Linked DNA regions of Homo sapiens. Changing the gene in region 1 together with any one later gene gives a genetic interaction. Each region holds a gene or a part of one and is shown on either strand. Other genes may lie near its edges. The genes, in order: GTPBP4, ATG10 and PITRM1.

What was found.
Region 2: of GTPBP4 (region 1) and ATG10, changing one suppresses a phenotype caused by changing the other (phenotypic suppression), as found in Homo sapiens cells (one large-scale study listed by BioGRID).
Region 3: changes in GTPBP4 (region 1) and PITRM1 together harm fitness less than expected from each alone (positive genetic interaction), as found in Homo sapiens cells (one large-scale study listed by BioGRID).

The regions. Positions count from the first base shown.
Region 1 is NC_000010.11:998,338-1,001,994, forward strand, and holds part of GTPBP4 (GTP-binding protein 4), read left to right. Parts: intron 1-665; coding exon 666-758; intron 759-2,339; coding exon 2,340-2,531; intron 2,532-2,610; coding exon 2,611-2,676; intron 2,677-3,657. UniProt on the Homo sapiens protein: Involved in the biogenesis of the 60S ribosomal subunit. Acts as a TP53 repressor, preventing TP53 stabilization and cell cycle arrest.
Region 2 is NC_000005.10:82,055,381-82,059,037, reverse strand, and holds part of ATG10 (ubiquitin-like-conjugating enzyme ATG10), read right to left. Parts: intron 544-3,657; coding exon 436-543; intron 1-435. UniProt on the Homo sapiens protein: E2-like enzyme involved in autophagy. Acts as an E2-like enzyme that catalyzes the conjugation of ATG12 to ATG5. ATG12 conjugation to ATG5 is required for autophagy. Likely serves as an ATG5-recognition molecule. Not involved in ATG12 conjugation to ATG3.
Region 3 is NC_000010.11:3,137,075-3,139,509, reverse strand, and holds the end of PITRM1 (presequence protease, mitochondrial isoform 2 precursor), read left to right. Parts: intron 1-460; coding exon 461-606; intron 607-1,172; coding exon 1,173-1,275; intron 1,276-1,385; coding exon 1,386-1,479; 3' UTR 1,480-1,782; downstream 1,783-2,435. UniProt on the Homo sapiens protein: Metalloendopeptidase of the mitochondrial matrix that functions in peptide cleavage and degradation rather than in protein processing. Has an ATP-independent activity. Specifically cleaves peptides in the range of 5 to 65 residues.

The DNA.
Region 1 (3,657 bases):
CATCCTCCTGCCTCAGCCTCCTGAAGTGCTGGGATTACAGGCATGAATCACTCCACCCTACCTTAAGATCACTTTTGCTTTGAAATAGATTTGTGAGTTTTATTTTGTCTACAGGTTGCTGTGACATGGTGACCAGCAAAGCTCTGCAGGGTCCTTGCTGATTTTTCAAATGCTTGTCAGCTCTGAACCTGCCCTGAGCTCTGAGCCAGTGCTCTGTGGCCGATTTGGTGGCCACTGCACTGGGTGGCTTTTTAAATTGCAGTTTAATTCAGCAAAATGAAAATTTCAACTCCTCAGTCACATGAGCCACATACTGAAAGTTCATTAGCAGTGCATGACTGGTGGCCCGGTTTGGACAGTGCAGACAGAACATGCCTGTCATCATAAAGAGCTCTGCGGGCATTGCAGGCGGTGGGGCAGGACTTGGGAGGGTGAGGGGAGGTGGTGGCTGTCCTCCAAATGCCAGCCCTCACGCTGTCCTAGTACCCCAGTCCTTGGCCTGGTGGTGCAAAGGGAGAGGTACCAGGCTCCTATTCGATGCAGTTTTATCGTGTGAGGTTTCTTCTATGGTTATTTCCTACCCAAAATCAGTCTTGTTAAAACACACAGATCCCACGTGTACACAGAGGAAATGAGGTGATTCTGAAAGTTCTCACTTGTTCCAGGTGACGAGAGCAGACGTGGATGTCCAGCCCTATGCGTTCACAACCAAGTCTCTGTTTGTTGGGCACATGGATTATAAGTATCTACGTTGGCAGGTGAGAGTCTTGTCTTTATTTTTATTCATTTATTTATTTTGAGTTGGAGTTTCACTCTTGTTGCCCAGGCTGGAGTGCAGTGGCATGATCTCAGTCCACTGCAACCTTCACCTCCCAGGTTCAAGTGATTCTCCTGCCTCAGCCTTTCGAGTAGCAGGGATTACAGGTGCACACCACCACGACCGGCCAATTTTTGTGTTTTTTTAGTAGAGAGGGGGTTTCACCATGTTGGCCAGGCTGGTCTTGAACTCCTGACTTCAGGTGATCTGCCCGCCTTGGCCTCCCAAAGTGCTAGGATTACAGGTGTGAGTCACACTGCACCTGGCAAGAGTCTTGTCTTTAAACAGAACAAATATCTTGGTTTATCAAGAACTTGAAATTTCTCCATCATCATAAAGAAAACTCATCTGAGCTCTTGGGATGCATAAGAACAGGTCGCATGTCTCTGATATAATTCAGGGGAGGCAGCCAGCTGCCAGTGTGGATTTCTGCATTTTCTTAACATAAAATGAAATTATCTTTGTGTCATTTCTAACTCTGTTATCAGAAATGGCATATATACAGTTTAAAAGCGTGAAGCAGGCTGGGCACAGTGATTCACGCCTGTAATCCCAACACTTTGGGAGGCCAAGGCAGGCAGCTAACCTGAGGTCAGAAGTTCGAGATTGGCCTGGCCAACATGGCGAAACCCCATCTCTACTAAAAATACAAAAATTAGCTGGACGTGGTGGTGGGTGCCTGTAATCCCAGCTACTTGGAAGGCTGAGGCTGGAGAATCGCTTGAACCCAGAAGACAGGGGTTGCAGTGAGCCGAGATTGTGCCATTGCACTCCAGCCTGGGCGACAGGAGCGAAACTCTGTCTCAAAAAAAATAAATAAATACAAAGCAAGAAGCAATGTTTCCACACTCTAATTTTGTAAATTGTGAAGAAAGTAATTCCTAAGACATGGGAGGGTTCTCAGTTATCCCAGTTTTTGTGTTTTATGATGTCGCTGGTAAAAAGAGGAGTCATTTCTCTCAACATCATGGCTAGCATTTCTTTGAGCTCTACAGGGTTCCTCCTCCCTTTTTTGATGTTTAAATAGTATGTACTTTTCTGTCACTGGTTTATTTTGTGGTATTCAGTTTGGGAGACCTACTTTTTTTTTTTTTTTTTTTTTTTTGAGATGGAGTCTCTGTCACCCAGGCTGGAGTGCAGTGTCGCTATCTTGGCTCACTGCAAGCTCCGCCTCCCTGGTTCACGCCATTCTCCTACCTCAGCCTCCCGAGTAGCTGGGACTACAGGTGCCCGCCACCACGCCCAGCTAATTTTTTGTACTTTTAGTAGAGATGGGGTTTTGCCGTGTGAGCCAGGATGGTCTCGATCTCCTGACCTCGTGATCCACCCGCCTCGGCCTCCCAGAGTGCTGGGATTACAGGTGTGAGCCACCGCACCCAGCCCTACTTTTTTTTTTTTTTAACTACAATTCTGCTGTAAGATTATTAGGTCTGGTTGGGTGTGTGTGAGTGACTTCTGGGATGTGCTGGACAAGAAGCTTGTGGGTGAGTGTGCTTTCAGTGACAAGGTCTGGCTGTGTTAGGTTGTAGACACTCCTGGGATCCTGGACCACCCTCTGGAGGATAGGAACACCATCGAGATGCAGGCCATCACTGCCCTGGCCCACCTCCGTGCTGCGGTCCTGTATGTGATGGATTTGTCTGAGCAGTGTGGGCATGGGCTGAGGGAGCAGCTAGAACTCTTCCAGAACATCAGACCTCTCTTCATCAACAAGGTGTGTGTGGTCACTCATGTTTTGCTTCATATCCTGCAGTACGAGAATAATGATTTCATTATTTTTCTTCCTTGCCTAGCCTCTCATAGTTGTAGCCAACAAATGTGATGTGAAGAGAATAGCTGAACTTTCTGAAGATGATCAGGTAAATCACGTTAATATTTTGAATATTTCTTACTTACCAATTCTGAATTCTCATCTCAGACAACCAAAGTTTAGATGAAGGAATTTTAGCAATACTAGTCCACAATTGTATTTTATAGTTGAGATAATATCCTCAGTGGTTTAGTGAAAAGACATAATAAAAACTTAGTTATTGGCAAACTAAAACGAAAACATAAGTTTCTGGATTCTTTGTTCTTGAGTGTGTGGAAGCATCTGTATTTGATGGGTTGGACTTTTGGAAAATGTGATTACTTAGGAGAGAACTGTTGGAGAAGGGTGCTCACAGGTGTTACTTCATAAAACAGGTTCTGTGATTAAATGAGTTTGGAGACTAATGATTGAGTGAAGGAGAAGGAGGATCTTGGAATTTGGGCTTTCTGGATCTGGATCTATGAGTGAGACGTGCCTGCTAGCTTTCTCCAAGAGGCAGGCAGTATTGTTGGACATAATTTTTCAAACTGATTGAATCCTACAACCTTTTTAATAGGCATCCTTCATGATAAATGCTTTTAGAAGCGTGCACTGGTGGAGTGGCTTTCAAATTGTGGTCCTGGCCCAGCAATGTCAGCATCACCTTCTTAATTTCTTCCTTAATTTCCTCATTGATCCATTGGTCATTCTGGGACATGTTTATAATTCTCATGGGTGGTTTTTTTTTTTTTTTTTACAGTTTTGAAAGTATCTCTTGGTATTGATTTCTAGTTTTATTCCACTGTGGTCTGAAAAGATACTTGGCAATTTTTAAAAATTGATGAGATTTGTTTTGTGGCCTAACATATGGTCTATCCTGGAGAATGTTTCATGGACTGAGGAGAGGAATGTGTTTTATGCAGCGGTTGGATGACATGTTCTGTAGATGTTTGGTCTACAGTGCACTTTTTTTTTTATTTTATTTTTGTTTTTTTTTTGAGATGGAGTCTCGCTCTGTCACTGAGGCTGGAGTGCAGTGGCACGGTCTCGG
Region 2 (3,657 bases), on another chromosome or scaffold:
TATTAAGCAGCCTGGGGCTAGGGCTATATTCAGGGAATTTTACTTGGAAAAAAAAATCAATAGACAACAGAAGGCATCTGTGGTATTCAGGTCCAAGAGAAACCAAAAGTATGACGGCTCACTACAATCTGGAGTCAGAGTGGATCTTATATAACTTTACCACAATTCTTGCTTTCAGTATTACAAAGGAAAATACCTCCTTCTCCCCCTACAACAGGCCCAGGATCCAATGGCAATTGGATCTCTCTCCAGTGGGAAGAAGTTTGAAGTTTTTAAAATATTTACTTAACAGAATTAAAGTATTTTATTTCAATATGAGTGCCATATAATTGTGGTGCTTCCATAGGATGGAATGCGATGGAGTCATTAAAGTATACATTTTTAAATGTATACTTTACGGAGACTGAAAAGAACATGATGCATTAAACTACTCACCTCCATGGGAAGACATGTCTGTCCATGGGTAGATGCTCCTAGATGTGACATCACAGACCCATTCTTAATTTGAAAGTGTATTTTGCACATGTAGCCATCAGAACAGTCCTGTGTTTCATCACCAAAAAATATATAAGAAAATGCCAATTATTTTAAGAATTCATCATTTTAAGAACCACTTCCCATAAGTTCCAAACTGATCAGTGAAAAACTAAATGTACTAAATGAGACTATATGGATAAAGAGACTAGTCCAACACCCTGTACGTAGTAAGTACTCAATAAATGCAAGTTTTATTCTCCTACCTCTCTTATTTATTAATGATGTTTCCACCCTCCTAGATTAAACCTTTCCCTTTTTTCCTGACTAGTCCATAGCACCAAGATCACAGAACAAAACTTAAGCTTATAGAAATAGCTTGTCACATAATTAATATTGATTTTCATGGCATACACATAGAGAACAATTTTAGGACTTGAAATAGATCTTGAAGCTGCAAGAAAGCTTCCATTTCAATTTCTTTCTCAAGGCAAGATCTCTATGAAAATGTCCCAGAAAGGTACTTATGCATCTCAGCAACTGCCTGAGTACCTCCAGGAACTGGCCCTTGTTACTCCCTTACACAGCGGTCATTTCCATTTTAGTGCATTGTACATTAAGAAAGTTTTGTCCTGTATTTCACATCCTTTAACTTACTTAGTTCTGCCCTCTGAAGTCTAATCCCTTTTCCACACAGCTGTTCTTCCAAGCGCTGAAGAAATGACCACCATTTGCAAATACTCCTTACAAAATATGGTTTCTGAGCCCTTTACCAGTATTTGTCTCCTGTTTCTTGTACTTGCTCTTAAATACACTAATGAATGATGTTCATCTAATTGTGGCCAGTTCCATTTTTTTAAGGTAACACTTTTTTGAATTCAATAAAGTCATGTGTAAGAATATAATACCTCCCCAAGAACAAACATACATGCCAATAAATATTAATTCCCCACCACATTGTCATACCAACATTTACATTTTAATAGAATTAAAATAATAAGGACTAAGGGGTTAATCTTCCTATAAGAAGAGGGAAATTTGGATGCAGTGACACAAACAGGGAAGAAAGCCATGTGAAGATGAAGACTGGAGCGGTGCATCTAGGAGCTAAAGATTGCCATCAGCCACTGGAAGCTAGAAGCAGTAAGGAATGGTCCTTCCCTAAAGCCTCTGGTGGGAGCAGGACCCTGCCAACATCTTGATTTCAGACTTCTAACCTCCAGAACTGTGAGAGAATAAATTTCTGTTACTTTAAGTCACCCAGTTTGTGGTTCCTTGTTATAACATTCCTAGGAAACTAATACAGTAACTCTATTTTTTAAGACACTTGACAGCACCTTAAGAATGCCTCCCAGTAAGTTGTGCTGACAAACAGCCAGCTCTCACTCAGGGGGCTGCACTGGTTAGTTGTTGATTGGTTAGATCCAACTCATTCTGATTGGTTGATGCCTCTGTCACAGGTTGCTAAATATTTTTAATATCATTCCTGCCTGGAAAGTAGGCCATCAGATATCCAATACTGTCATTTTTAATTATTTCATTAAGGATATCCATTTTGTAGATGGAATTACTGTTTTAAATTCCAGCTCTACACTATCTGACCACAAAGCAGATCCTGTAATGGTCTTCTACCATTGAAACCTTCGTATTTAGAAAAATGTAAATTTAACATTGGCTTAAACTGAGAAAGATATATGTAATGACTGTTGTCATTGCCACTGTTTCACATCAAACATCCATTCTTCCTTCTTTTGGAGCAGTAGTCATTGCTCCTCTAAGGAACAATTGCTCCTCAATTCTCCTGATTGAGAAGGGAATGGTTCCTTAGAGGAGCATTGGCTACTGTTACACTAATTACAGCTCCAGGGATAGACACAGATCTCTGATCCTGCCCATCAGTACTGCCGGCCCCAGAGACTCTGGAGGACAAATGATTACAGCTCCAGGGATAGACACAGATCTCTGATCCTGCCCATCAGTACTGCCGGCCCCAGAGACTCTGGAGGACAAATGATCTACATCACAGCCAATGGGATGAAATTCAGGATTTGGTTTTGGGGGGTTGGGAAAGGTGGCTGTTCTCTTCTCCACTAGGTTTGAGCCAGACAGACCACAAAAAAAAAAAAAAAAAAAACCTGGCAGCCATCATGTAATTAAACGAAGTTGGCTCTGCAACTCAGAGGAAAGCAAGACCATGAGATACAGAGAAACCACATTCTGACTACATTATTTACACCAACCATATCTGAAACTAGTTCTATCTCAGATTTTTCAATTACATGGCCCCAAAAAGTCCCTTCTTTGCTTCACCCAATGGGTTGGGTTTTCTGTCACTTGCAACCAAAATAATTTTGCTATTAAGTAACATAAATTTGTGTTTATTAGTTTAAAAATAGAAGATTTCTATTGTATTGTCAATCTTGAGATAGATAATCAATAGTTGATTATATAAAAGATTTACCATATACAGTCATGCATCACTTAACGGCAGGAATACCTTCTGAGAAACACGTCATTGGGCTATTCTGTCATTGTACAAACATCATAGACTGTGCTTACACAAACCCAAATGGTATGGCCTCCTACATACGTAGGCTATAGACATAGTTGCTTGCTCCTAGGCTGCAAACCTGTACAGCATGTTACTGTATTAATTGCAGGCAATTGTAACAAAATTTGTGTAAAATTTGTAAGTATTTGTGTATCTAAGCATATCTAAACAAAGAAAATGTACAGCAAAAATACAGTATTATAATCTCATGGGAACACTGTACATGTGGTCTGTTCTTGACCGAAATGTCATTATGCAGCATGACTATACGGTAAAACTATAATAGCATGTGTTTGAGAGAAAAATTACCCAAAGTCTGCAATTTCAAAATGATCTAGCCATAGAGATAAAAACCAAAACTCTCAGGATATTCAGAGAACACGGAGCTGCACTGTGTGTACTAAATATAGCTCATTAAATGAGGGTAACTGCTCTATTTTGTATTTTTCAATACCTGAGCCCTGGTCACATAACCTCCTCTTAAGGGAACATAAAATTTAGTAAAATTCTAATAACAATGCAAAATACATCTCCTTTGACATTAAAAGAGGTGAGTCAAAAATTCGTGTGCACCTATGTTATAAAATCTAAATAAATTATCTGGTCTCTTTCCCAATTAGTTAAGATAAAGA
Region 3 (2,435 bases), 2.1 Mb from region 1:
CTCTTTGCATTTACACGAAGGGAAGTCTGGATTGGCCCCCTCAGGCTGATTCCTGTACTACCCTGGGTGTGTCTTCAGGGAGATGAAAGGAAAACCTTTGTTTGCTTAATTTTTCCATGTAAGTCTTTGTAATTTCCCTGTAATCCTGACCTGCCCCTACCCTCCACTGACTTTCCTCTCCTGATGAGGTCACAGAGAAGTGTATTTAAATAATCTAGGGAGGACTTTGTGCAGACAGACCTTGTCTAAGAGGGAGAACATGTTGAAAGGCTTATGTGATCAGATTTAAATTTCCATTGAGAGTAATTGAGCGATTTGTCAGTGGGCTGTTTGGACTAAATCAGATATAAAATAGAGCTGTTAACCCATAGAAGATGTTGAACTGTTAAGTCGACAGAGGTTTGTCATAAACTTGTCCACTGGTAAAATGCTTGCCCGTTTATTTCTCTGGGTTTCCTAGGGACCCAAATACAATAGAGACGCTCCAGTCTTTTGGGAAGGCTGTCGACTGGGCTAAGTCTGGAAAATTCACACAGCAAGACATCGACGAAGCCAAACTTTCTGTCTTCTCAACCGTAGATGCTCCTGTCGCTCCTTCAGACAAAGGTATTTTGAGTATAACAGTGAGAATCTCAACCCACAGCCTCACAGATGACGTTGCTGTTTTCCAAGTTCCCGGCATGCATGGGCAGGAGCACTAGCTTCTGGTGCCTCCATCCTTGCTTGTGATACGATTTCCACGTCTGACACCCTAAACACGCTTCCTGACATCCGGGCGAGAAGAGTGCATCCTGTCATTTGTTTTACTGACCTGAGACCCAGTGGGGCCAACCCATGGCAGTGTCCGGGCTCTTTAGGGTGGAAGGAGGACGTGGGCACGGCCCGGGCATGGCCACGTTACTCTCTGGAGCCGCTTTTGCTCACAGCATCATCAGCCTCACGCGGCGCTGACTGCATCCCTGCTGCAGAAGCAGGCGTGGGTAGGGGTCAGCGTGGCACGTGGGAGCTGGAGGTCGGGGTGTGATCTCTGGGTTGTTAGACACATCCCTGTGGTTGAAACATGCACGTGAAATGACAGTGAGATGCCTGTGTCCCCTCCGGGACATGAGTGCACAGCCCACAACGCGAGCTCCCGGGCAGCGGCTCCATCGTGCCTGTGGATTGTCTTCTAGGAATGGACCACTTCTTGTACGGCCTCTCGGATGAGATGAAGCAGGCCCACAGAGAGCAGCTCTTTGCTGTCAGCCACGACAAGCTCCTGGCCGTGAGCGATAGGTGAGTGGGGAGCGGGGGAGACAGCGTCTGGGACTGGAAGCCCTCGTGCTGACTCTAACAGCGCTCACGCAGAAGCCAGTCCTTGCTGACCACGCCTGCCTTCCTCTCAGATACCTCGGCACTGGGAAGAGCACACACGGCCTGGCCATCCTCGGACCCGAGAACCCGAAAATTGCCAAGGACCCATCCTGGATCATCCAATGAGCAGCCGTGGCGCTCGACTGCACAGGAGCCCGAGACAATACACCTCCGAGCTGAATATGAAAAGTCAGAAATGCTACTGCTTTTTCCAAGAATATTATGTCATTGAGTGTCGCCAAAGCCCTTGACTGGCGAGTCAAAAACTCAGATCTATCTTAAGAGTGACCAGGAAGAGGTTCATTGAAATAATCATGCATGAAGCGCCAAAGATGCACCATGTAGAATTTTCACTTTGTACTGGCAGGCTCGTTTTACCTCATTCTAGAATATTTAAGAATCTAAAAATAAAGGGCAACTCTGACTTAACCTCTGCTTGAGTCATTATTTTAAGCAGCATTTAGGGCCTTTATTTAAAAACAGAAGTAAAATGAAAAGGTGCACAAGGGTGTCCCACGTCTGCCTGCGCTGATTCAGGAAACTCCATCACACCGAGGCCCTGGGGGAGTGTCCACCAGACGGGAGTTCACCGCGGCGGCTGCATGGAAACCGTCCTGAGAAGCAAGTGGGTTGGGGTGAGTAAGCGCTTGCTTCATCGTTACAGAGCCAGAAAGGAAAGCCTCCGCGCTAGCTCTTTCTTGGCTGTCGGACTCTGATTTCCCAAACAGAGTTTGTTTTTGGCCTCTCCTCTCCCTCCACCCAGCTCTCTGCCCCCATTTCTGAGGCGCAGCTGTTCTCTCTTGCAGACTAGAGCTAAGAGGCAGAAACGCTGTCCCTACAGGAGGGGGGCCCACCAGGGCAGCAGGGCTGTCATCCCAGCAGCCGTGTCTACTCTGGCAGGAGTCTTCCGGAGAGTTCCAACCTAGGTCCCAGCGAGGACTGTGGCTTGGCCTGGAGGAGAAGCTGGCTATCAGATTTTTGAACCCACCTCCGCCCCACCCACCCCTTGGTGGTTTTAACATGCAGCTAGGATTGCAATCAAGAGGACAAGTAACTAAGATTCATGTTTTACTTTCAAAGGA